Homo sapiens: one gene and its partners. The protein of the gene in region 2 purifies or fractionates together with the protein of the main gene of each other region. This does not show direct contact. Each region holds a gene or a part of one and is shown on either strand. Other genes may lie near its edges.

Region 1 (7,000 bases), on a different chromosome or scaffold from region 2:
CCTGACTTTCCCCTGAGGGTCATTCATTCACCTCCACTTCTCCCCTAGAGTCTTTAAGGGAACTTGCCAGTGGAGATCTGCCATGATTTGGGGTTATTCTCCACTCAGTTTAGAATGACATTGCAAGATTAATGTTGGAGTCAGATGTTATGGCCAGGAAGATTGTGTATTTGGTTTGTGAAGCTAAACTGTGGTTCAGGAATTGGAAAAGGAACTATCCTTTGAGTTCAAAGTGTACTCAGCTAAAGATACTTGGTATGTGAGGTACAGAAGCCATGCCTGCATTTTCCACTGTCCTGGCCTACATAGTAGGTACACAGTAGATATGTGTTAACTAAATAAACGAGAGAAAGAAATTAAAAATGTGGGCCAGACACGGTGGCTCACACCTTTAATCCCAGCACTTTGGGAGGCCAAGGTGGGCGGATCACCTGAGGTCAGGAGTTTGAGACCAGCCTGACTAACACGGTGAAACCCCGTTTCTGCTAAAAATACAAAAAATTAGCTGGGCGTGGTGGCACACACCTATAATCCCAGCTACTCAGGAGGCTGAGACAGGAGAATCGCTTGAACCTGGGAGGTGGAGGTTGCAGTGAGCTGAGTGAGCTGCACTCCAGCTTGGGCAACAAGAACAAAACTTCGTCTCAAAAAAAAAAAAAAAAAAAAGTGGAGTTGAATACTTTTCTTTCAATTCTGTAGATATCATTTTTTTTTTGTATGTGGTGTTAGATTATAGAAAGGGCAATGAACTAGAAGTCAGGAGACTTTTTTTTTTAATCCTGATGCAGTTCATTTTATGTTTCTGAGCTTTGGTTTCCTCATTTGAAAATGGAGAGAGATTGGACAGCAGCTCTCTAAGCTGAAGGTAACCCTTTCTGTCAAGTAGCATCCCCATCCTTTCTATTACTTAAAGATGCTTTTAGAGTAGACCTGAACTTTTAAGCTGCTTCCTGCTAGGAGAGTTCTCAAGGATGAGGACAGCCTGAAGATTTTGTTAAACTGGATCTGGACTACCTGAGAGTCCACACATCCCTTGTGAGCCCGAGGAGACTATGAACCCACTGAAATTGAGTGTAAAATAGTGTGTAGTACATGTGTATGTGAATGCCCCCATCAATTTTTTGCACAGGGTGTCCTTAGCTTTTATTGGATTCCTTCAGATGTTGTAACCTCTCACAGGGTGATTTGTAGAGAAGCTGGGTCTGTGTGGTCTGAGCCCTGGGGATTTCACATATACTGAGATCTCAGGGGCAGAGGCTGGGGTCTTATCTCCATTGCGTTATTTATTTTCTGTGATTTTTACCCCAGTTTTTTTTTAATTTCCGATACCAGTAATCCCTACAGAACCTCAATGGGCATGCAGTGCTCCATAGTTTACTCCTGTTTTCTCATTCTGCTACTACCACTCCACCCATCAAGTGTTTCTGCTAATGAAAACATTTTTCTTCCTTTCCCCTTTTCTCCTTCTCCTTGATGACTGGTTGCCCTGGGGACTCTGGCAGTTGGCCGTGTTTACATCAGGTAAGATGCATTTCATTTTACTTTGTCTTTCATCAGCTCTGGTTGCACAAGAGAGCCCTAGTCTCAGGAGACTGCTTTCAGAAGCTGCAATCTGCCCTGCTTGTGGGCTCATTTGCTTACTTACCCCCACAGCCTTCTTTACATACCTGTCCACTGACAGACACTTGATGAAATCGGGATGGTCCTAATTCTGCCACAGAGGGCCTTTTTGGATCTCAGTTACTCATTTATAAATTGGATTGGATTGATAGTATGTTAGTTAGGTCCTTTTTATTTTTGAGATTCTGCTTCTATTAAAACAGTGCCTCCTATCATATCAACAGTCCCCCAGCCCTTAAAGGTTATGAAAATATTAGGAAGGGGAAAATTTTTTTGGTGTCAACAAAGAGCTTTTGTGAGGAGAGAAAAGTCTATTTTCCTAGCTTTAGCACCTACTTGGTGAGACAGAGCTGGGCCTGGCATTCACAAGTGGCTGTGAATAATCACAGCCTGCTGAAAGTCTCCCTGGTCGTCAGCAGTAGAGTACCACACTCGTAGGTGGCCTGGGAATGTGGGGGAGGACAGAAGTTCCAGACTGCTAAAGCTTCAGAATCTGGATGGGAGAAAGAAGGTGGGAACAGGGCTGCACATTCTGTCCCCAGCGGGACCTGGTAGTACATATTGACTATGAGTTTATGAAGAACACATAACACATTAAGTTTTGGAGCTATGAACAGTAAGAGTAGTAAATAAAATCATTCAGTGCTGCCATCTCCTCAGCCCTGAAGTCCTAGATTCATGTTTATAGAATGTCTATAAAAACACATTTTGGCCGGGTGTGGTGGCTCACACCTATAATTCCAGCACGTAGGGAGGCCAAGGCAGGTGGATCACTTGAGGCAAGGAGTTTGAGAACAGCCTGGCCAATATGGCAAAACCCCGTCTCTACAAAAAATATAAAAATTAGCTGGGCGTGGTGGTGCACGCCTATAGTCCGAGCTACTAGGGAGGCTGAGGCACGAGAATCGCTTGAATCTGGGAGGCAGAGGTTGCAGTGAGCTGAGATTGCACCACTGCACTCCAGCCTGGGTGACATAGTGAGACTCTGTTTCGAGAAAAAAAACCAAAAAACCGAAAAAAAAATCAAAAACAAGCAAAAAACAAACAAAAACAAACCAAAAACATTTTTTATCACTTGTTTTTTTAAGAAAATTAATTTTTTTTTTTTTTTGAGACAGTCTCATTCTGTCGCCCAGGCTAGAGTGCAATGGTGAGATCTCGGCTCACTGGAACCTCCGCCTCCCGGGTTCAAGCGATTCTTGTGCCTCAGCCTCCTGGGTAGCTGGGATTACAGGTGCACACCACCACACCCGGCTAGTTTTTTTGTCTTTTTAGTAGAGACAACGGAGTTTCACCATGTTCCCCACGCTGGTCTTGAACTGCTGACCTCAGGTGATCCACCCGCCTCAGCTTCCCAAAGTGCTGGGATTACAAGCGTGAGCCACCGCGCCTGGCCTAAACAAAAAATTTTAATGTAACCAGTGAAAGGGCCTGAGAAACCCAAAACGGGATTTTTTTTATATTGAAAGAAATAGGTGAATGCAAAAAATCAATGAAAGTACACAAAAAGCATTAAGCAAATTTAGATAATGAGCAAAACCTATCCTTTAGCATGTGGTAAGTCACCAGAAAATGATCAGCTTATCTCCTGATTCTGATGCCTGGGATACACAGTTGTTGGGAAAATGCTATAAAAATGAGAAATTGGCCGGGCGCGGTGGCTCATGCCTGTGATCCCAGCACTTTGGCAGACCAAGGGAGGAAGATCACGAGGTCAGGAGTTTGAGACCAGCCTGGCCAACATGGTGAAACCCTGTCTCTACTAAAAATACAAAAATTAGCTGGGCGCAGTGGTGGGCGCCTGTAATCCCAGCTACTTGGAAGGCTGAGACAGGAGAATTGCTTGAACCCAGGAGGCAGGGGTTGCAGTGACCTGAGATCATGCCACTACACTCCAGCCTGGGTGACAGAGCAAGACTCTGTCTGGGGAAAAAAAAATGAGAAATCACAGAAAGAAGAATATGACTGACAGGAAAATACAGTTGCTCCTACTGGGAAGGTGGGGATTTAAAGTTTGCTGTACTTACACCAGCAGCCTAAATTGAGGCTGGGCATGTCAGACTTGACAGCCCCAGACTTGCAGTTTCCCTCCCCCTGTGTTGCTAGGAGGCCCTAGAGAGAAACAAAGCATGAAGAAGCCTAATTGTGATGATTTTTTTTCTTTTTTTTGAGACAGAGTCTTGCTCTGTTGCCCAGGCTGGAATGCAGTGGTGCAATCTCGGCTCACTGCAACCTCCGCCTCCCGGGTTCAAGCGATTCTCCTCCCTCAGCCTCCCGAGTAGCTGGAACTACAGGCATGCGCCACCATGTCTGGCTAATTTTTGTATTTTTAGTAGAGACGGGGTTTCACCTTGTTGGCCAGGCTTCTCTTGAACTCCTGACCTCAGGTGATCCACCCACCTCCGCCTCCCAAAGCGCTGGGATTACAGGCATGAGCACCGCACCCGGCCAATTATGATGATATTTAAAGGCAATTTTGATTTTACCACTGGTAGGTATTTGCTGAATGGTAGGAGAAGGAATGGGAGTCAGGTTCCTTGAGATGTTCCCTGCTCATGCTGGTGTTTCCCAGTTTGAGGCCTCTGGCCTGTGTTGTTCTGGTGGCTCTGGCTGATCACTCTGGTGGGTCTTGGGCCATCCACATGCATTTTTCTCTCCTGTTTGCAGTGGTTGGAGACCAGACCTAACAGACAGGTGTGTCCTGTTTGCAAAGCTGGCATCAGCCGAGACAAGGTCATCCCCCTCTATGGAAGGGGCAGCACTGGGCAACAGGACCCCAGGTGAGGACTCAGGATGCCTCTCCCAACCACTTCTCCCCTTGGATGTGAATTCACTCCCATTCAGCATCCCCTAACCCCACCCTTTACTTAGTACTAGATGATCTCTTGGTTTCGAAGCAGTCTCATCCAGATGAGAGTCAGCTAGGAGGGGAGGGAAGAGAGGGGATCCAAGTTGCCACTTGCTAGGACCCAGCAGTGAACAGACATCACAATCACAAGTGTGCAGAGCCCTGTGAAAGAGCATTTCTGCAACCTGGGAAGCAGGATATGTAGCAGGAGAGGCTCCAGGGAGCAGGGTTGCTGCATCAGTGATGTATAAAGCATGGCGGGAGGGGAAACAGGATCTGGGTGACTTTGTGGAGTTTGGGATTTCTAGAAATGGAGATGTGCATGGGTCCAGCATTCAACAAACACAAGTATTGAGAGCCCTTCATGGTCTGGCATCCCCAAGCTCTCCAGAAGAATCTCTTACCTTTATCCAGCTACCCTAGCATATGCTGTGTACCCGACATATTAGACTTTCTCTTAAAGGGACTTGCTCTTTCACATTTATCAGCCTGTGTATTTGCTCTCTCTTCTGCCTTCTTCCCTCCCCAGTCCTGCTCAAGCTACCCCTCTACCCCCACCTGCTCCTCTAACTTCTACTCATCTCTTATGAGCAGCCCTAAAGTTCCCTCTTCCTTGAAGTGGTCTGTCTTCTTCACATTAGTTGCTCTCACCCAGTTCCCACCACAGTGTCATATGACTGGCTTTATCCCCCTTGAAACCATGAACACTTCAAGGGTTGGGTCTGTCATCAGTATTACAGCATCCTGCATAATGCTTATTGTATAACTAAGCCCTCAATTGAGTATTCATGGGTTGAGTGATTTGAGGGGGTGAGACTCAAAAATAATAGCATTGGGTATTTGCCCAAGAATAGTAGGAGATAGAGCTGAAGTTAATAGGGGAAGGTCAGAGAAACCATGAACCTCAGCCCTTACTGCTGACAACCCACCCTCTGTTCCAGTATGGATTTGGGATTTCTGTTATCTGTAACAGGCCCAGGGAAGGCATCTGGCCATGATTCCTAACCGATCTGAGTCAGGATCTCTGTAAGAGGAGTAGGCTGTAGTGCAATCTGGTGAATATCTCATAACGAGTTGATTTTCTCCCTGGTTCTCTATACACGTGGGAAGAACAGTTGCAGGTAGAATGAAGAGTTCGTATTTGGAGAATTAATCTGGCATAAGTTCATGTCCTGGACAAGAAAGAGGCTATGGCCCTGACCCTGTTGGTAAAGAGCTCCAGGTCCTCACAGGGAGCAACTCAAAGCAATTTGTAATAGACTTATTTTACACCATTTCTGTTTCAGAGAGAAGACCCCTCCTCGTCCTCAAGGACAGAGGCCAGAGCCGGAGAATAGAGGGGTGAGGAACATTCTAGGAGAAGCTTCTACAAATGAGCTGATGGCTTTAGAAGTTTCCTTCTTAGCCTTACAATTTTTCTCCTTGATTATAAAAGTAAAGGAAAACTTGTAAAATACAGAAAGGAAAAGAGGGGGAAAAAAATCACTTATAACCACACCAATCCAGAGGTAACCACTGGAAACATTTTGGTTCTATTTTCTTTTCCATTTTTCTATAATTATATATACACACAAATTTTACAAATCTGTGCGTGTATTTTACAGATGTGTGTATACTTTTTACAGTTTTTGTTTTTTGTTTTTTACAATATGTGGCTCCTGTTTTGTAACCCTCTCTTAAAATTTCATTTGTTCTACAGATACTTAGTACCTTCTTTGTGTGAGTGGGAGTCTTTTAGTATTATCTTGAGATTTTACATTGCCAGCAATATTTTACTAACTAGCTGTTTAGCATTTAGTTGTGTGGATTTAACATAATTCAATCCTTTGTTAGACATTAGCGGCTTTCTTTTTCCAAGTTAAAAAAAATCCTGATGAACTTACAGATAAATTTGTGAGCATGTTCATTATTATTTTATTAGGATAAGACAGGGTCTCACTCTGTAGCCCAGGCTGGAGTGCAGTGGTGTGATCACAGTTCACTGTAGCCTCGACCTCCTGGGCTCAGTCTACCTCAGCCTCCCATGTAGCTGGGACCACAGGTGCACGGCACCATGCCCAGCTAGTTTTTTGAGTTTTTTTTTGTCTTTCTTTTTTTTGTTTTGTTTTGTTTGGGTAGAAACAAGGTCTCACTATGTTGCCCAGGCTGGTCTCTAACTCCTGGGCTCAAGCAATCCTCCCACCTCAGCCTCCCAAAGTGTTAGGATTACAGGCGTGAACCACTGTACCTGGCTTAGGATAAATTCTTAGAAGTAAGATTACTGGCTAAAAAAAAATTGCACATTTGTCTCTAGTGGTCTAGTGGCTAGGAACAAAAACATTTACATTTTTTGCATATTTACATCAAATGTTACTCTTAAAAAAATTCTGTTAAAATGTTAAAGAAATTTTAAAAGCAAAATATTTACCCACCATTGCCAAGAGCCCAGAACAAGTATATTCTCATATCCTCATGTTCTCTTCATCTGTAGGCTGTGCATATGTATTTTTATGTAGCCATCACCATTCTGTTTGCTTTAAAATTTAATTTTGG
Region 2 (8,008 bases):
AGCAAATCAGGAATGTCTTTACTTCCTCCAAGGACAGTGAAGCTGCAGCAACGATGTCTCTCCCGCCTCCACCCTCTTCAGATCTAAGAGGAAAAATTGGTCATCTCCTGTCTTTGGGGCCCAGGGCTCGCACAAATGCCATCTCCTAGTCCCCAGCCACAGCGGTGATTCAGGCCATTTACTCAGATCCACGTTAATGAGTTTTTTCTGTCACCTAATTAGTTCACAGAGAACTCAGCCTTGAGAGGAAAGAAATAAGAACGGGTTGGGAAAAGGCAGAAGGAAGTCAGACTGGCATGTCACAACAAAAGATAGAACCCAGCACCACATGGGGTCCCCCCAGACCCAGTACTTCTTCCCCGGCTATGGGGACCTCTGAAAGCAGAAAGGGAGGTGTTCAGGTGCACTATCCCCCAGAACCTCAGGCAAGCAGATGAAGCTGGGAGTGGGGCCCTAACCTTAAGGCCCAAGTCAGGGACAGGCCCCTGCCCATAACTCCATGTTATCGCAAAAGGCCTTGGCTCTCACTGCATTTCCACTGAGGCCAAACCCACCACCTGCCGGTGGGCGTCCCCTTTCAAACAGAGCTGGGGGAGGAAGCAGATGGCCCAGGGTGAGGCCCATCTGTCCGTGCCCGCTCGAAGGTCACCATGCCACCGGGGTGCCTGCGGGTGCCTCCAGCACCCACCACACCAGGGCTTGCGAGGCATCTGCCAGCAGCGTGCCACCACTTCCTGTGCCCTCAGCGGTCGAAAGTCCAGGGCCTAAGGGCCCAGAGAAAAAAGCGCTAGGCAGCGCAGTGGCCGGGGGTTTCCGGTCCCCGACTCCGGGTGCGGTGTCCCTGGCGGTCGGTCAGCACCCGGCTGCCCAGCAGCTGCCTCCAGACCGAGGAGCCGCGGATCCCCGTCAGGCTCATGACCCGGCCAAAGCGCGGATGGACCTGCCGGCGCCTCCCACGCGGTCGCTGAGCCTCAGCCCAGCGCCAGGCCCGGCCCGCTCCCGCTTGGCCGCCGCGGCGTAGGGGGTGTGCGTCGGGAGAGGGCGCCGCGGCGAGCGCCACCCTCCGGGCCTGCGGGCGCTGGGCCCGGGAAGGCTGCCATCCACTAACGCGAGGCTCCGATCCCCCGCCCCACTGCGGAGCAGGGCCCGGGCAGCGGCTAAGAAGCCTCCCCGGTCACGACCCCACCTCCCCGCAGCTGAAGCCCTCTGCCGCGCCCACCTTCCCCGGCCAGGCCTGGACAGATCTGGTCCCGGCCCCCCCAAGCGACACCACCTTCGCGCCCTGGAACACAGTCAGCAGAAAACCCCCAACCCCAAAGTGTCCCCGAACGAGATATGGCGAAGCTGCCCGCCGGTTCTGCAACACAGATCGGCAAACCTCGTGGCCTGGTCCTCAAGCGCGCAAGGACCCCCGACAGGGAGAGCATGGCCAGGCACGGCCTGTGGAGCCCTCGGCCGGCGCCGGAGAGGCCACTGCGCCCCGGCTCCCGCAGCCCCCGGCTCCGCTCACCCTCGATGGAGATGACGTGCTCCCGGATCTGGTTCTGCAGCGCCAAATCCTCGATGCGCTCGATCAGGTCGTAGATGGCGTAGATATTGGGATGCACGGACTCGAAGCGCTGGATCTCGGCCCGGATGGCCGCGGAGTTGGAGAGCGCGAACTGCTGGGGGGGCCCGCCGGCCAGCTGCTGCGAGGGGCCGCCGCCGCCCCCGGCCCCGGGCCCCGCGCCGCCGAACTGCCCGCCGCAGACGAGCTGCTGCGCGGCAGCGCCGCCGCCCCCCGGAGCCGCCAGGCTCTGCTGCTGCTGCGGGCTCTGCCCCCCGCCCGCCTGGAAGTTCATGGCTTCGGAGCCGTGGGGCCCGAGGCGGGCCCGGGGCGGCGCGGCGGAGGCGGCGGCGGCGGCGGCGGCGGCAGCGGCGAGCGGGAGCGCGGGGCTGGCGGGGCCGGGACTACTGGGCTGGCGGCGCGGGGCTAGCGCATGGAGCCGGGGGCCGGGGGCCGGAGGCCGAGGCCAGGAGGCGCCGCCGCGCACGCTGTGGCCGCCGCTGCCGAGCGCTTCCCAGCGCCGTGATCCCGCTGCCTCGGAGCAGCCTCCAGCGGCAACAACAACGGGACCGGGAGCGCGCGGCCCAGGCCCTCCCCCCGCGTCATGCGCACGCACCGCCGCCCCCGCCGGCTCCGGCACACGCAGCCCGAGCCCCCCTCCCCGCCGCCCCCGCCCCTCCTGCGCGCCGGCCCGGGCGCCCCCGCCCCTCGCTCGCTCGCTGGCTCTGCAGCCTCCACCCCCGAGCCGCGCGCTCCAGCCCTGGCGCCCCGGCCCCTCCCACTCAGCCTCGGCCCTTCCGCCTCCTCACCAGCCCCCACCCGCATTGCCTCGAGGGCCACCCTCGCGGAGGGGACAGCTGCCCTGGTCTCCTCCCGCGCCCGGCTGTCGCTTTCGCCTCCCTGCGCTGATCTGGGCGGGGTGTCGGATCTCTAGGCAATGCCCAAACAGTGCCCTGCGCCTGAGGGTGCTGCTGACCGAGGCTGATTGGCCGAGGAGTCCGCCCAGGCCCAGCTGCTCCTCGCTTACAGCGTCCCGCCTTCAGTGCGGCATAGGCTCCCCTGTCCCCAGGCTCCGAGGTCAGCCCTAGAGACCACCCTGCTGCCGGAGTTTTCTCCCTGTCTCCCTGCCCAGGCTCTCCACTGCCGGCTGCAGCAGTGCTCTCCTAAAAGACCCTCCCCCTGCCGGACTTGGGAGATTAGCTAAATGCTACCCGACCCCATTGGTACATAGAGGAAGAAGAGGGAGGGATGAAATAGTATATGCCTTTCTCCCCTACTCATCCCATTGGAGAGACCAACCAAAGCCCACGTGGCTCTCAATTTTTCTTGTCCTCACCCCTTGTCCATCCTGTCCTTTCACTCCCTCTAGGGCCAGGGAGCTCCCTGAAATGTCCCAGTTCCTCTGCAGTCCCATTGCCAAAGTGGGCTGCAGTTCTGTTAGCCCCCTCCCCCCCACCAACACACACACGTTTCCTAAAACCTACAAGAGGTGACATTTGCAGAGGCCGCAGCCAATAAATCTGCCAGAGATGTTGCAGGGTATCTGCTACCCCCAGATATCCTAGGGCATCAGTGACACACATCGTCCTTCTTACGCACACTTCCACTTCCCTGGCCAAGCTGGATCTTTTCCCAGCATGAAGCTGTCCACTGTTTGATTACCCACACAACTCAGCCCCAGAACCAACCCAGTCACTATTCCCGAGTTCCTTGTACCTTCCAAAGCACCTGGTGCAAGCTAATCAACACACAGGGTCTCCTAAGCTCCTGAGGAACCTGTGTTTCTATCTCCCTGCATAAGCTTAAGGATATCTTGTGCCCTCTCTGGGTTTCATCTGCGAAATATAGTGGTTGAACATAAAACCTAGTTCTGATGTTGTATAATTCTAAAAGTAACATCCAACATCTCTTTTAGGTGCTTAATTAGAATTGACAGCAGGAAGTAGCACCAGGTATACCTCCCAAGAGAGACACTAAGAGCAAAGAGCTCCTCAAATGTGTTGCCCCAGCAACTAGCACACACGTGTTATAGCACTGTTGGGCTGTTCACACGTCTAGCTCTTCTACTAGTATATGGAGCCACATGAGGGCAGGAAGAGGGTCTGATTCACCATTTTATTCCCAGTATCTTGCACAATGCCTGGGATATAGTGTGTGTGTGTGTGTGTGTGTGTGTGTGTGTGTGTGTGTGTGTAATTTTTTTTGAGACGGAGTCTCACTCTGTCACCCAGGCTGGAGTGCAGTGACTCGATCTCAGCTCACTGCAACCTCCACCTCCCGCATTCAAATGATTCTCCTGCCTCAGCCTCCCGAGTAGCTGGGATTACAGGCGCCCGCCACCACGCCCAGCTAATTTTTGTATTTTTTTTTGTAGAGACAGGGTTTTACCATGTTGGCCAGGCTGGTCTCGAACTCAGTGATCCGCCTGCCTTGGCTCCCAAAGTGCCAGGATTACAGGCGTGAGCCACTGCGCCTGGCCATAGTACATCTTTTAAAAAATATGTTAGTAGAATAAATGAATGAACAGGAGGGATGGAACTAGAGGTAGGTTAGTTCTGTATGGTATCAATCTAGACTGACATTCCTAAGGCAATATTTGGGCCACTTGCTCCCACAGTAGGCAAGAACCATGGGAAGACTAGGATAGATTATTTTAAATCAAGACTGGCCTGTAAAAACCAGGATGTGAGATCTCTGTGGCTACAGGAGCCCAGAGGGAAAAATCCAGATATCCACAGGCCTGGGATTCAATGCCATCCACACAGTAACACACCAAAGACCCGACTCCTGAGACCAGGTTTGGGTGGAGGTGAGCGAATAGCTACTGTGTGACATGTACCTTAGTTTTTACACTTTTTAATAAAACATCTAATTTCTTCCTTATGATTGACTTACGAGGTGTGTTTTAGAGAGGAAGAAATTAATGTTCAGAGAGATTCAATAACCCACCCAAGGTCATATAGCTGAGAAGCACAAGATAAGGGATCAGGATTTCTGCCAGGTTCCAAGGTCTATGCTTCTTCCACAGCCCTGAAGGGGCTGTGGAGTCCCGAAGGTGGAGGAGGGGACCAAGGAAAGGGGCAGCCCTGAGGATGGGTATCCCTAGCCAGCCTGGTGGGGCAGCCCATGGATATTGGGCTCTGGGCTGAAGAATTAATTTTGGTGGCCAAAGTGCCTTCTGGCGTCCACTCTGACATAACAGTAGGGGCCACCTGAGTTCCTCAGAGCCTTCCACACTGCATCACGAACACGGGTACTCTGACGTGCTCCAGCTGACGTCGGTGTCTGGTGTGATAGATGCCCTGGCTGTTGGCAGGGGAGGGGGCGGACGCTGCTGCCGCCCAAACCTCTAGGGGGTAGCACAACCCCCAAAACCGCCCCCGCCAGCCCCTTCGCGATCTGCAGGCGCAGAGAACCGCGGGTGGAGCCCCACACGTGGGTCCGCAGGGCGGAGGGCGGGGACAGCGCGGCGCCGGACTACAAGTTCCACAATGCCCCGGGCCGCGGCGGCGGGGAAGGAGGGGTGCTTCAGGTGCCTGCGACCTCCGCGCCTCCCGCCCGGAAGTGCCCGAGGGGCCGCGATGGAGCTGGGGGAGCCGGGCGGTGAGTCCCCGCGCCGTGACCGCGCCCACCCCGCCGCCCAGGGCCCCGGTCGGGCCGGGATCGCCGTGCCCTCCTGCGGCTTCGGGGGGCGGGAAGGTGGGAGGGGTGATGAGAGGTGGGGGTGGGGAACGTGAAGTCTCGGATTCCGGGCGGGATCTGGGGTCAGGCAGCCCGGGGGGCTTGGAGAGACTTCCAGAGGAGGCGCGGAGTTAGTCCTCCGCGGAGTGGGGTTGAGGGGACCTGGAGGGGGCCGAGCTGGGTGGGTGGTGACGCTCGGTGGCTCCAGATTGCCCAGGGGCGGAGTTTGACGTTTGCTGTGGGGGAAGCCTGGGAAGCAGTCCTGTGCCGCGGGTGGGGTTTAGGTGAACCGTAACGCGGGGGGCGGGGGTGGGGGCACAGAGGCTCTACCCCCACCTCTTAGAAACTTTAGCAGCGGAGTAGATGAGCCTGGGGTGAAGTCGGTGAAGGAGTAGACACACTGGGGTGAAGTGGGCAGGAGAATAGATACGCTTGGGGGTGAAGTTTGGTTGGGGTGAAGTTTAGGAGAGGCGTTGCTTAGGCCCTTACCTTGGGATAGGGTTTGGGTGAGTTGGGAGCTGGTTGAAGACCTCGAGCTCAGATGACAGAAAGTTAGGACTTGGGATTCGGCGATGGGAAGGGGCACCCGGAGGCAAGTTTGGGGCGACTGGGAGGCAGAGAAGCCGGTACCCTGGGGTGGGTGAGGGGACGGAGGCTGAGGACGGTGGGAGCGTCGCGGTGGGGTGAGGGCAGGACCCTGTGGAGGTTCCAGGGCTCCTGGCCAGGGGGCCCGGGCCTCACGGGCTCTTTGTGCCTCTCCAGCTCGGTAGCGCGGCGGGCAAGGCAGGCGCCATGACCCTGATTGAAGGGGTGGGTGATGAGGTGACCGTCCTTTTCTCGGTGCTTGCCTGCCTTCTGGTGCTGGCCCTTGCCTGGGTCTCAACGCACACCGCTGAGGGCGGGGACCCACTGCCCCAGCCGTCAGGGACCCCAACGCCATCCCAGCCCAGCGCAGCCATGGCAGCTACCGACAGCATGAGAGGGGAGGCCCCAGGGGCAGAGACCCCCAGCCTGAGACACAGAGGTCAAGCTGCACAGCCAGAGCCCAGCACGGGGTTCACAGCAACACCGCCAGCCCCGGACTCCCCGCAGGAGCCCCTCGTGCTACGGCTGAAATTCCTCAATGATTCAGAGCAGGTGGCCAGGGCCTGGCCCCACGACACCATTGGCTCCTTGAAAAGGTAAGTAGGTCAAGAGGCAGGAGCAATGCTAAAGACAGGGGTTGGGAGAGTGGTCGCAGAAGGCCCCCAGAGACACCTAAGACCCAGCCCTCCTTTATACTGGAGGCGCTGAGCGCCCCAGATCACAACTGTACTTGTTCCCCTGGCAGACGGCCCCTCCCAGGCCAGGGCCGGTGTGTTGTGGAGGGCAGGGGGAGGGTGGGAGTGCTGTTCCGGGGCCAGGGACTAGGATTGCCTGAGGCCTGCTCTCTTACCCAGGTCCCTCTCTCCTCAGGACCCAGTTTCCCGGCCGGGAACAGCAGGTGCGACTCATCTACCAAGGGCAGCTGCTAGGCGACGACACCCAGACCCTGGGCAGCCTTCACCTCCCTCCCAACTGCGTTCTCCACTGCCACGTGTCCACGAGAGTCGGTCCCCCAAATCCCCCCTGCCCGCCGGGGTCCGAGCCCGGCCCCTCCGGGCTGGAAATCGGCAGCCTGCTGCTGCCCCTGCTGCTCCTGCTGTTGCTGCTGCTCTGGTACTGCCAGATCCAGTACCGGCCCTTCTTTCCCCTGACCGCCACTCTGGGCCTGGCCGGCTTCACCCTGCTCCTCAGTCTCCTGGCCTTTGCCATGTACCGCCCGTAGTGCCTCCGCGGGCGCTTGGCAGCGTCGCCGGCCCCTCCGGACCTTGCTCCCCGCGCCGCGGCGGGAGCTGCTGCCTGCCCAGGCCCGCCTCTCCGGCCTGCCTCTTCCCGCCGCCCTGGAGCCCAGCCCTGCGCCGCAGAGGACTCCCGGGACTGGCGGAGGCCCCGCCCTGCGACCGCCGGGGCTCGGGGCCACCTCCCGGGGCTGCTGACCCTCAGCCCGCACTGGGAGTGGGCTCCTCGGGGTCGGGCATCTGCTGTCGCTGCCTCGGCCCCGGGCAGAGCCGGGCCGCCCCGGGGGCCCGTCTTAGTGTTCTGCCGGAGGACCCAGCCGCCTCCAATCCCTGACAGCTCCTTGGGCTGAGTTGGGGACGCCAGGTCGGTGGGAGGCTGGTGAAGGGGAGCGGGGAGGGGCAGAGGAGTTCCCCGGAACCCGTGCAGATTAAAGTAACTGTGAAGTTTTCACTCTTGCAGTGTGTCTGAGTGTGTGCGGGCTGGCGGGCGGGGAGTCCTCGCCCCTTGGGAGAGAAGGGCACGGACTGCGCCTGGGGTCTGGCCCTCCGCCTTCCCTTCTCCCCAGCGTTCTGCTCTGGCTTTGGCGCCGGCCTCCGTGGCCCCGCCCTCGGCGCCGGGCGCGCACTTCCCGCGGGCGGGGCTCGCGGCTCCCTGGCTCGCAGTGCCTGCCGGGAGCCACGTCTCCGAAGACCGATAGCTGCTTCGGGATTGGCGTCCGGGCGGCTATCTAGGGGCTGCTGGGAAGATGGCGGACTCGGTGGCTAGCCGATGAGGAGGCCGCGGGGGGAACCCGGCCCCCGGGCCCCGAGACCGACTGAGGGAGCGACCTGCGCAGGGCCCGGGGAGTCATGTAGGGGTGGCGCCTGCGGGGAGGGCTGCGGGAGGGCAGCGGGAGCTGGTGTTAGCGGCAGCGGCCACGGTCTCCTGGCGTCCCTGGGCCGGGGTGGGTGTTGGGGCCCC
Region 3 (5,594 bases), on a different chromosome or scaffold from region 2:
TACAAAGAGGAAACAGTAAACACTACTAGGCCTTCTTCAAATCTGTTGCTGGGTTAAGATTTTCATATCCACCTATGTAATTGGATTATGCATCATTTGTGAAATGGTGCATGGCTTCTAAGGGGTCCATGTCTACATTTCCAGTTTTTTTTTTTTTTTTTTTTTTTTGAGACGGAGTCTCGCTCTGTCACCCAGGCTGGAGTGCAGTGGTGCGATCTCGGCTCACTGCAAGCTCCGCCTCCCGGGTTCACGCCATTCTCCTGCCTCAGCCTCCCGAGTAGCTGGGACTACAGGCGCCCACCACCACGCCTGGCTAATTTTTTGTATTTTTAGTAGAGGCGGGGTTTCGCTGTGTTAGCCAGGATGGTCTCGATCTCCTGACCTCATGATCCGCCCGCCTCTGCCTCCCAAAGTGCTGGGATTACAGGCGTGAGCCACCGCGCCCGGCCTCCAGTTTTTGAATAGCTGGCGCAGCTGAGATATGGATGCTGTGGGCTTGGGGGCATCTGTGGGTACAGCATATTCAGTCCCTGTCTTGATTTTCCACTGCTGCTTCTAGAGTTAGCATGAAGAGTTCTGGATTTTATATATATATATGTATATATAATGGAGGAAAGTATGTATTTCACAGGGAACCTTGCTGTGCAACATTTTTGGTCATTTGTGAAGAAATACAAAGTCCTTGAATAACAATTAGTTAACAGAAACCTCAGTGTAGCCCAGTAAGCTTGTCAGCTCCACTCTCCCTCTGTTCTAATCTCTGCCCTGCCCCGCTCAGGCTGGTATTAGTCAGGCATGCAGCTGCACAGAGCAGGGGTTGCGGTGGGCGGCTGTTTTCTTTCTAACATCTCGCCTCTTCACTCACCATTTTTTCTAACCTGCTCTAGGGTCAGGCTTAGAGGAGAGGGATAGAATAGGACAGTGAGACTCCAGCGTGTGTGTGCGTGTGTGTGTATGTACCTACATGTTGTGCCAACTACGTGTGTCTGTGTGTGTGTGTGTACATGTTATGCCAACTATCTCCCTGTCCCCATCTGGCCCCAGAAACTCCTCCTTTGACCCTGGGCTGGCTATTGATGACCACTCCCACCTTCATGGGGGTCCTGTTACCTCTCCAAGTGGTCCTTTTGGGCACAGTTGTTTTCAACAACCTTAGGTTGGTTCCCTCCTGCAGGAGCCCTATCCAAGCTCCAGGACACACACAGTGTTGTCTGGAGTCAGTGGAAGGTGAACGTGCTCCCGTCACAGCTCCCCTGGCCCTGTATTTTATTGGCTCCTGCCAGTTTCTTTCTGTAGATTTCTCAAGTGTATGCAGCCACCAGTTCCCCCGTCCTTTGACTCTCGGGGATACGAATGGTTCTCTTGAAGTTCCCTCTCGAGCTTAGCTGAAGGCAGGAAAAAGTGAGGGTAGGTCCAGCAGGAACTCTGAAGTAAAACAGCCTGCCTCTCAGCTGCACCCACCTCCATTCTGTCACAGCCTAGAAGCGGGCAATGGGCTGACCCTGGCCAGCGCAGGTCTGCATCTGGGAGCATGAGCAGCGCAGATGGTCAGGCACCTGCTAGGACCTGGGGGTGCCTGGGCATTGTCGTGGACTTTGGAGCTTCAACCAAAGCCAAGGAACCATATAATCCATCCTGTGTCTTTTCAAAAGATCCTTAGGGCTGGGCACAGTGGCTCATGCCTGTAGTCCCAGCACTTTGGGAGGCTGAGGTGGGTAGATTGCTTGAGTCCAGTAGTTTGAGACCAGCCTGGGCAACAAAGCAAAACCCTGTCTCTACAAAAAATACAAAAATTAGCCAGATGTGGTGGCACGAGCCTGTGGTCACAGCTACTTGGGAGGCTAAGTTGGGAGGATCCCCTGAGCCTGGGGAGGTTGAGGCTGTGGTGAGCAGAGATTGTGCCACTGCACTCCAGCCTGGGTGACAGAGTGAGACCCTGTCTGTAAATAAATAAATAAATAGATGCCTAGCAGTTTTCCTTTTTACCTCTGTTTTCAGAGTCAATTGAGGATATAAAATTTGTGCAGAAGATTGGATAAGACTGGTTTAAATGTTTGAGCAATTAGTAGAAGTGAACAGAAAATTCCCAGGATGTAAACTCACGGTTGTCGTGTTGGTAGCGTATTCTAAGAGTGCAGCTTGAAGGTGCTTACGTTTTTCATGCTGGTAATCATTTACTTACCCTCTGATGCCGAACATTCTGTGTGAGTCAGGTCCTGTTCTTAGTACTACTCAAGCCATAGGCAGCAGGCCTGCCCTCAGGGAAGCTGCTGCTCCATTATCCGTAGCTTGTGGTTCCTAGTTTCTGCCTCCCTGCTTGGCAGCAGCCTTCTCTTTGCGTCCAGAACAGCCGTGTCTGGGGTGCCCTGTAGGTGAGGAACCTGCTTAGGAGGGAGGCCTGTGCTCACAGCTGCCTCCTTGCTTCCTGCCCCGTGTCCAGACCGAGCGTGTGCCACTGGACCTCAGTCCTCGCCTGGAGGAGACGCTGGACTTCGGCGAGGTGGAAGTGGAGCCCAGTGAGGTGGAAGACTTCGAGGCTCGTGGGAGCCGCTTCTCCAAGTCTGCTGATGAGAGACAGCGCATGCTGGTGCAGCGTAAGGACGAACTCCTCCAGCAAGCTCGCAAGTGAGTCGCTTCTCCAGACCACCTGGCATAATCCAGATCAAAAACTAGTGGCTGAAGGCCGTTGTCAGGCCGTCTTCTCTTTTTAAACAGATGCCAACAGTGAAACGGCATTACATGCCACCCCAAAACTCAGATTTCAAGCCTCTCTTGAAAAAACCAGAGCATCTGGTAACACTGGGCCCCACTGGTCTACCTCTGATGCTGGTACTGTCAGTCATCTCCCATGGACCCCTTTGGCCACGCTTGCCGAGAGAGCACTTGTGTGCTAACCTGATCTAAGCCCTTTATATGAATTACTTTAACAGCTCTAAGAGGGAGCACTGTTAACCCATTCAGCTGACATACAGCTGAAGAAATGGAGGCTGGAGAGGTTAGCACTGGCCTGGCCCTGGCGTCTGTCTCCCAGGTCCTCCCTGTTGACCACTCTGCCTTTCAGCTGAGCATTGTACACACACTCAGCGCATCTGTGCGTCACACACCCATGGTTGGTGGCAGCTACAGCAGGTGTGTCCTGTGGATAGAGGGGGTTTTGTTCCAGCTCTTAAGGACAGGGCCAGCACTGTGTTCCTCAAGTGGGTTTGGGCCCTGGCAGACCCTGTGATTGTGGGAGTTCTGTGCTGTGTCTGTGGGTGGAGGGGATGGGCAGGAAGAGACAGCAGGGAACAGCACTGAAGGGTTCCTCCCTGGTGCAGAGAGAATTTGCGCCCATCTGTTGGGGGCTGGATGTCTTGGTCATTGGGTGGTGCTGAGTGACAGCTTCATGAAGGTGCCTGGACATGGGGAGATGTGAAATCAACCTTCTGGCTGTGTTCCACAGCTCCCCATCTCTCCTATGAGAGAGAAAAAGTCTTCTGTTTTTTCTAGACGTTTCTTGAACAAAAGTTCTGAAGATGATGCGGCCTCAGAGAGCTTCCTCCCCTCGGAAGGTGCGTCCTCTGACCCCGTGACCCTGCGTCGAAGGATGCTGGCTGCCGCCGCGGAACGGAGGCTTCAGAAGCAGCAGACCTCCTAGCGCTCCCTTGCCTTCCTCAGCTGCCTCCTGCGCCCTGTGCCCGACTGACTGGAGGAGGCCTGTCCCAATTCTGCCCGCTCCATGGAAAAGCGGGCTTGACTGCATTGCCGCTGTATAAAGCATGTGGTCTTATAGTGTTTGGACAGCTGATAAATTTAATCCTTCTTTGTAATACTTTCTATGTGACATTTCTCTTCCCCTTAGAAACACTGCAAATTTTAACTGTAGGTATGATCTCTTCTGGTGTTGACTGGACTGCTTGGGGTGGGGGACGATCAGGAGGAAGTGAGCAGTCGCCTGCCTGCAGCAGGCAGCTTCTACTCCTGCCTCATGCGTACGTCCCACAAATGCAGGTGTCCTGAGCACCACACCCAGTGGGAAGAGTGTGGGGGAGGCGCACAGTGTGAGCCCGCCCCCACGTCGTGGGGTAACATCTGTTATCAAACTGCTGTCGTTGTTGTGGAAGCATGTAGACTGTGCCAGAGGCCAGACCCACGGGCTCATGCACCCCTGAGCCAGCAGGGCATCTTGGAAAAGGAACTCTTGGTTCGATACCTGGAGCAGAGGAGGGGAAAGTCCAGGGCTATAGGGTGTGATGAAGTCACCCCTTTCTGTCCCACTACATCTGGGACTGACTTTCCGAGCCTCCAGTCCAAAGCCGGCTTGATTTCCGTGAACTCTGGTGCTCCTGCATCTCATGAGTGTGCCCCATGGGTCCCCTCCCCTCTCAGCATTTCCTTGTCCCGTCTGGACCTGGGGAGTGGTTAGGCAGCAAGCTTTGGTTTATGGTTTTCATTCATTGGTGAAGTAAATTAGGCAGTGCTAAAGCCTGTGGGTTTGGTCCTTGAACAAGATGTGGGCCTTGCAAGATGGGAGAGTAAACCTTGAAGGGCTTTATTAAAGAAATAAAAAAGAACTTTTGTATCTTTTATCCTGGGAGCACTGCGTTTTCCTAGCTGTGTTATTCCTGGTTTAATTCAGCAGAGAAGGTAAGGTGTGAACCTACCTGCCTTGGAGAGGGCCCAGGTCCCAAATCTCTTCAAATTCTTCACATGTTTAACTTTAAGGATTTGAACCATGAAGTCATAGGTTACAGACCTCAGTTTTATGCCCCATTGGATTACTTTTTTTTTTTTTTTTTTTTTTTTTTTTTTTACTCTTTGAAAGCTTTGTTTTGTGGTAGTCCTTTTGGGAAGAATCCAGTATTATCCACAATTATTGGCAAAGTTTAAATGTATTTTACATAACGGAAAGTTTTTAGAATGTTGAAAAGTAATTGAAAAAGGTGATAGGTAAATTTTTAGGCAAAGATAATTTATTTCAATAAATCTTTCAAAAGCCTTACCTTGAAATGCTGTTAGTAAATTTCTGTGATTTTTTTTTTTAATTTGTTTTGCTGAGAGCATAGCTATTTGTTTTTATTGTAAAACAATAATAATAATAAAAAGCAAACTCTATTGGTGTGTTGTGTGTGGCTGGAAGCTAAGGCATGTTTTTGTGTGGCTGGAAGCTAAGGCATCTTTTTCCAGAGGTGCCAACGTTAAACCCCATTTTGATTTGGATTTTGTGTATACTATTTTGGTTGGAGGGTTTTTTCCCATGTTTTTGAATTGGGAACTTTTGTTTTTCCTAGTAGTGTATTTGGGGAAGGCAGAACTACATTTTTCTTCCCCTTGTATTTATATCTTTTTTTTTTTCAGGTAAGTGTGTAGCGAAAGATTATTTTACTGTCCTCGAATTACATTATACTTCACACGTTGCACCCATTGTAGGTGCCACTAATTCCACATGTTCACAGGTTTCTGATGTGTGAAAAGAGAAAATTACTTGGATCAATTTTAGAGGGTCTTGACACATTACAAAACAGCCATATCACAGTGTTTAGAGCAGGAGCTTATTAAGTAGCTTAAAATGATGCAAGAAGTGAAGTTCTCAGTCCGCCCTTCCATTTTACACC

Evidence for each region.
Region 1: the proteins of TMUB1 (region 2) and RNF185 purify together in Homo sapiens (affinity purification with mass spectrometry; 5 studies listed by BioGRID and IntAct, with this or other methods). This does not show direct contact.
Region 3: the proteins of TMUB1 (region 2) and AMFR purify together in Homo sapiens (affinity purification with mass spectrometry; 3 studies listed by BioGRID and IntAct, with this or other methods). This does not show direct contact.

The regions. Positions count from the first base shown.
Region 1 is NC_000022.11:31,191,182-31,198,181, forward strand, and holds part of RNF185 (E3 ubiquitin-protein ligase RNF185), read left to right. Parts: intron 1-1,502; coding exon 1,503-1,521; intron 1,522-4,287; coding exon 4,288-4,400; intron 4,401-5,754; coding exon 5,755-5,809; exon of another isoform or gene 5,810-5,976; intron 5,977-7,000. UniProt on the Homo sapiens protein: E3 ubiquitin-protein ligase that regulates selective mitochondrial autophagy by mediating 'Lys-63'-linked polyubiquitination of BNIP1.
Region 2 is NC_000007.14:151,080,575-151,088,582, reverse strand, and holds TMUB1 (transmembrane and ubiquitin-like domain-containing protein 1), read left to right. Parts: upstream 1-5,089; 5' UTR 5,090-5,149; intron 5,150-5,563; exon of another isoform or gene 5,564-5,819; intron 5,820-5,989; 5' UTR 5,990-6,019; coding exon 6,020-6,408; intron 6,409-6,682; coding exon 6,683-7,034; 3' UTR 7,035-7,498; downstream 7,499-8,008. Other genes in the region: FASTK (fas-activated serine/threonine kinase), read left to right, coding at 7,817-7,898. UniProt on the Homo sapiens protein: Involved in sterol-regulated ubiquitination and degradation of HMG-CoA reductase HMGCR. Involved in positive regulation of AMPA-selective glutamate receptor GRIA2 recycling to the cell surface.
Region 3 is NC_000016.10:56,360,952-56,366,545, reverse strand, and holds the end of AMFR (E3 ubiquitin-protein ligase AMFR), read left to right. Parts: intron 1-2,440; coding exon 2,441-2,625; intron 2,626-3,489; coding exon 3,490-3,637; 3' UTR 3,638-5,094; downstream 5,095-5,594. UniProt on the Homo sapiens protein: E3 ubiquitin-protein ligase that mediates the polyubiquitination of lysine and cysteine residues on target proteins, such as CD3D, CYP3A4, CFTR, INSIG1, SOAT2/ACAT2 and APOB for proteasomal degradation.